Linked DNA regions of Homo sapiens: region 2 is linked to region 1. The links come from fine-mapping of genetic effects on gene expression. A gene starts in region 1. The other region holds a variant in brackets. All regions are shown on one strand. Distances are between the middles of the regions. Region 1 holds the start of DDX56 (DEAD-box helicase 56). Region 2 has its middle 11 kb from the start of NPC1L1.

The links. PIP is the estimated chance that this variant, and not a neighbour inherited with it, causes the effect. A credible set is the group of variants that fine-mapping cannot tell apart.
Region 2: its variant is the best candidate, but not a certain one, in a credible set for the expression of DDX56 in whole blood (TOPMed, PIP 0.70).

Annotation. Positions count from the first base shown.
Region 1 is chr7:44,572,534-44,575,343 of GRCh38, reverse strand. It overlaps DDX56 (DEAD-box helicase 56), which reads left to right and starts at 1,436. Exons shown (of 14, transcript NM_019082.4): 1 at 1,436-1,508; 2 at 1,600-1,761; 3 at 2,294-2,454; 4 at 2,600-2,770. The coding sequence starts at 1,449. RefSeq lists an enhancer at 1,670-1,819.
Region 2 is chr7:44,550,641-44,553,450 of GRCh38, reverse strand. No RefSeq gene overlaps it. Among named protein-coding and RNA genes, the nearest start is that of NPC1L1, 11 kb to the right of the region's middle. The variant T/G (reference allele first, on the strand shown) is at 1,474.

The sequences.
Region 1 (2,810 bases):
CTAACAGCCAGATGCTAGTCTCTGGTACTCAGATGCTGGGCTGCATCAGATAGGATGCACAGGATCATCCTGGAAGCTTGTTGACATAGATTCCTGTGCAACACTCAGATATAGTCTTAATGTAGATTTGTGTTGGGTGGTATGGTAGGTAGAATAATGGCCTACCACTCTGAAACATATGAATATGTTACCTAACATGACAGAAGAGAATTAAGTTGCTAATCAGATGACTGTAAAATAAATTATCCTGGATCATCTGGATGGGCCTAATGTAATCACAAAGGTTGTTTCCTTGCCTTTTCCAGCTTGGCTCTGGCTCCCTTCCTCCAGCAAGGGTGGGTTGAGCTCTCACATGGCACCACTTTGACCTCTTCTGCTTCCCTCTTCTACACTGAAAGACTTATGGGCCAGGAGCAGTGGCTCGCACCTGCAATCCCAGCACTTTGGGAGGCCGAGGAAGGCAGATCGCTTGGCCCCAGGAGTTCAAAACCGTCCTGGGCAACGTGGCGAAACCCCATCTAGAAAGAAAAGAAGAGAAGGGGAGGGGGGAGGGGAGGAGGAGTTACATATATACACATACACACACACACACACGTACGTACATACATACATACACGCTAACTGGACGTGGTGGTGCGTGCCTGTAGTCTTAGCTTTCCAGGAGACTGAGGTGGGAGGACCACTTGAGCCTGAGATCGCGCCAGCCTGGGTGACAGTCAGACCATGTCTCAAAAAAAAAAAAAGATTTGTGATTAGGATTCTTAGTCCTCACCTGTATTATTTTCCTATTGCTACTGTAACAAATTACCACAAATTTACTGGCTTAAAACGACGCAAGTCTGTAGGTCAGAAGTCTGACACGGGTCTTAACTGGTGACCCGAGTCAGATTTGGGACACAAAGAACAGAAACCAAGCTGTGCAGGTTTCTGACAGGCAGTCCGGTTAGGGAGCCCTACAGCAACCCGCCGGTCCTCTCTCTCAGGCAGTTGCTGCCATGGCTCATTATTCCAACCGGTTCTCCTCAGCCCAGTCTATCTCAGTGGCTCCATTCATAGGGTGATGTGCCCGGCGGGACACTAACCCTAACCAAGCAGAGAGACGGTCATGCCCGTCACGACCTCGGCCCTCGCCCCGGCCGAGGCTTCTCCTGCAGGTCGCGAGAATCAGGTGCGTCAGCGGCGTCCGGGAACGCCGGAAGAGCCAGTGGAGCGGCTCTGTAGTCCAAAGTACCCCGTCGACCCCAGCACGGCCGCTCCACCGCCTCCTACTAGACCCAGTCCTAGGGACTGCGCAGTCGCAGAGCTCCGTCCGAGTACCGGAAGCCTAGGCCGCCAGCACTTCCGGGAAGTGACTTCGTCTCCGAAGCCGATTGGTTGTTGCTTTGCTCCCGCTCGCGTCGGTGGCGTTTTTCCTGCAGCGCGTGCGTGCTGCGCTACTGAGCAGCGCCATGGAGGACTCTGAAGCACTGGGCTTCGAACACATGGGCCTCGATCCCCGGCTCCTTCAGGTACACGCGAGGGCTGGGGAGCCGGCTTACGGGCTCTGCGGGGCGCGCCATCGCTCTTCACGCCGCTTAAACCGCACTCCTGGTCTCCTAGGCTGTCACCGATCTGGGCTGGTCGCGACCTACGCTGATCCAGGAGAAGGCCATCCCACTGGCCCTAGAAGGGAAGGACCTCCTGGCTCGGGCCCGCACGGGCTCCGGGAAGACGGCCGCTTATGCTATTCCGATGCTGCAGCTGTTGCTCCATAGGAAGGCGGTGGGTAACGAGAGAGCTGAGGGGAGGAAGGAGGCAAGCTCCAAAAGCCTGGGAAGGGCGGTTCCCGTTTGTCTGAGGTTTTCTCTTGGCCCTGTACCCGTGCAGGCCGGCCTGAGAACCTGGTGCTGTTGTGGCAAACACTCTGGGCTGGAGTTCAGGTTACCTGGATCCTTGTCCGGCCCTGCTACCACCAACCTTTGCGTAATCTTCGACAAAGCACTTTCTTTTCTTTCTTACATAAAAAGGGAGCACATCTATCTTTTCTACTTACAGAATTATTGTGAGAATTTAGCTTCATAACTAGTATATTTAAAGTAGCTTCATAAACATCAGAGTACGTTATTCTTTTTGAGGGTCAGTGCCTGGGGAAAGAACTCTCCACTCTGCATTCTGAGGCGGGCAGAGTGATAGATGATCAAAGTACTGCTAAGTAGTGTTGCAGCAGATGGGTCAGGTAGGCTGGAAGGGGTAGAGACACGTGGACACAGTGATGTGCACTGCTGGCTAAAGTCTTTAATTCATATTCTTACAGACAGGTCCGGTGGTAGAACAGGCAGTGAGAGGCCTTGTTCTTGTTCCTACCAAGGAGCTGGCACGGCAAGCACAGTCCATGATTCAGCAGCTGGCTACCTACTGTGCTCGGGATGTCCGAGTGGCCAATGTCTCAGCTGCTGAAGACTCAGTCTCTCAGAGGTGGGTAAAAGCAGCAAAGCTGTACCTGAATGAAGCTACACAGTGTTGTGGGGTTGGGTTTGTGTGTGGCAAAAAAGAGAGCAAATCCAGGGTGAGATCCCAGCTGCTACATTCTGCCTGATACTGATGTCTTGTCCACCTCCAGAGCTGTGCTGATGGAGAAGCCAGATGTGGTAGTAGGGACCCCATCTCGCATATTAAGCCACTTGCAGCAAGACAGCCTGAAACTTCGTGACTCCCTGGAGCTTTTGGTGGTGGACGAAGCTGACCTTCTTTTTTCCTTTGGCTTTGAAGAAGAGCTCAAGAGTCTCCTCTGGTAAGGCAGAGGTGGGTGTGATTCCTAGTGGAAACATCTG
Region 2 (2,810 bases), 22 kb after region 1:
GTTTAGTTTTTCTTTTTCTAGCTCCTTAAGGTGTGCAGTTAGAAAATTTCAAATCTTTCTTCTTCTCTTCTCCTCCCCCTCCTCCTTCTTCCTCCTCGCCCTTCCTCCTCCTCCCCCTCCTCCTGTTGGGGTGATCAGACCCAACACCAGGTCGTGGGGGTGACAAAGTCCGGTGGAGTCAAAGGATTGAGACAAAGACAGTTTGAGAGATAAAGGTGGGACACCAAGGGGCCATCGTGATCATGGAGGCTGCGAAAGCCCTGCGCTCTGGGAGTCCACAGTATTTATTGGTAATCCAACAAAGAAACAGGTGGTGAGGCATGTTCTCACTCATAGGTGGGAATTGAACAATGAGAACACTTGGACACAGGAAGGGGAACATCACACACCGGGGCCCGTTGTGGCGTGAGGGGAGGGATAGCATTAGGAGATATACTTAATGTAAATGACGACTTAATGGGTGCAGCACACCAACATGGCACATGTATACATATGTAACAAACCTGCACGTTGTGCACATGTACCCTAGAACTTAAAGTATTAAAAAAAAAAAAAAGAAACAGGTGGTGAGAATGTGGAGGTCAAAAGGGCAGGCGCATGATCTACAGCTGTGACAGTTTAGCATTTATATGGAACATGTTCTGCTACTTGAGATAATGGGAATAGGAGCCTAGGAGGGCTAGAAGCAAGGAGCCAGCAAGTCTAGACACATTCCAGAGGACATTATGCAAGTCCTGCCTCAGTTTCCCTCCCAACACTCAGCTTTTTCCCAACATCCTCCTCCTCCTTCTTCTTTTTTTCTTTCTCTTCCTCTTCCTTTCTTTCCTCCTTCTCTCTTTTTTGTAGAGATGGGGTTTTGCTATGTTAATCCAGGTTGGTCTTGAACTCCTGGCCTAATATGATTCTCCTGCCATGGACTCCCAAAGTGTTGAGATTACAGGCATGAGCCACCACACCTGGCCCTTTCTTTAAAAAAATTTTTTTTTTTTAATTTTTAAAAATTTTTTTGAGACAAGGTCTTGCTCTGCTGCCCAAGCTGGAGTACAGTGCTGTAATCTCAGCTCACCGTAGCCTCGACCTCTTGGGCTCAAGTGATTCTCATCCCTCAGCCTTCCAAGTTACTGGGACTACAGGCACGTGCCACCATGCCTGGCGAATTTTTCCTATCTTTCTTGTAGAGACAGGGTTTAGCCATGTTGCCCGAGCTGGTCTCCCTCAATCCTGCCCCCTTGGCCTCCCAAAGCACTGGGACTACAGGCATGATCCACCGCGCCAGGGTGCTTTCTTCTTTTTTGATTGTGTTTATGGCTAAAAATTTTCCTCTTAGCACAGCTTTGCTGCATCCCATAAGTTTTGGTATGTTGTGTTTTCATTTTCATTTGTCTCAAGGTATTTTTATATTTCCTTTGTGATTTTTGCTTTGATCCATTGGTTGTTAAGCATGTGTTGTTTAATTTCCAAATATCATGAATT[T/G]TCAGGGTTTTTTTCCTGTAATTTATTTACTTTTTTTTTTTTTGAGCCAGGATGGAGTGCAGTGGTGTGATCATGGCTCACTGAAGCACTGATCTCCTGGGTTCAAGTAGTTCTCTCGCCTCAGCCTTCTGAGTAGCTGGTACCATAGGTGTGTGCCACCATGCCTGGCTAATTTTTGTTTTGAAACAGGGTCTCACTCTGTGGCCCAGGCTGGAGTGCAGTGGTGCGATCATGGCTCACTGCAGCCTTGATCTCCTAGGTTCAGGTGATCCTCCCACCTCAGCCTCCTGGGAAGCTGGGACTACAGGTGCACACCACTACACCAGCTAATTTTTTGTATTTTTAGTAGGGATGGGATGTCACCATGTTGCCCAGGAAGTTCTGAACTCTTGGGCTCAAGCAGTTCATTTCCCTCAGCCTCCCAAAGTATTGGGATTACAGGTGTGAGCCACCACACCCAACTTATTTTTATTTTTAGAGATGGGGTTTCTCTATGTTTCCCAGGCTGATCTTGAACCCCTGGGCCCAAGAGATCCTCCCAACTTCTCCTCCCAAAGTGCTGTGATTACAGGTGTGAGTCACCGTGCTCAGCCCCTTCTATTATCGAGTTCTAGTTTCATTCCATTGTGACTGGAAAATATACTTTCTATGATTTTAATTATTTAAAATATAACAAGGCTTGTTTTGTCGCCTAACGTACTGTCTGTCCTGAGGAATATTCCATATGCACTTGAAAGAAATGTGTATCCTGCTGTTATGGAGTGGAATGTTGTATATATACAAGTGTCCAAGTGTTTTATAAATGTTCAAGACTTCTATTTCCTTACTGGTCTTGTGGCTAGTTGTTCCATCAATTATTGAAAATGGAGTATTGAAGTCTCCAACTACTTATTGTTGCATTGTCTATTTCTCCTTTCAATGATGTAATGTTTGCTTTACATATTTTAAGGTCACATTGTTTGGTGCATATATATTATTACTTATTCTTGATGAATTGACCCTTTTAGTAATGTATAATGTCATTTTTGTCTTTTGTAACAATTCTTTATTTAAATTCTATTTTGTGGTCAGGTGCAATGGCTCATGCCTGTAATCCCAGCACTTTGGGAAGCTGAGGTGGGCAGATCACTTGAGGTCAGGAGTTCAAGACCAGTCTGTCCAACATGGCAAAACCCCGTCTCTACTAAAAATACAAAAAATTAGCTGGGTGTGGTGGGACACGCCTGTAATCCCAGCTGCTTGGGAGGCTGAGGCACAAGAATAGCTTGAACCCGGGAGACAGAGGTTGCAGTGAGCCAAGATTGTGGCACTGCACTCCAGCCTGGACAACAGTGAGA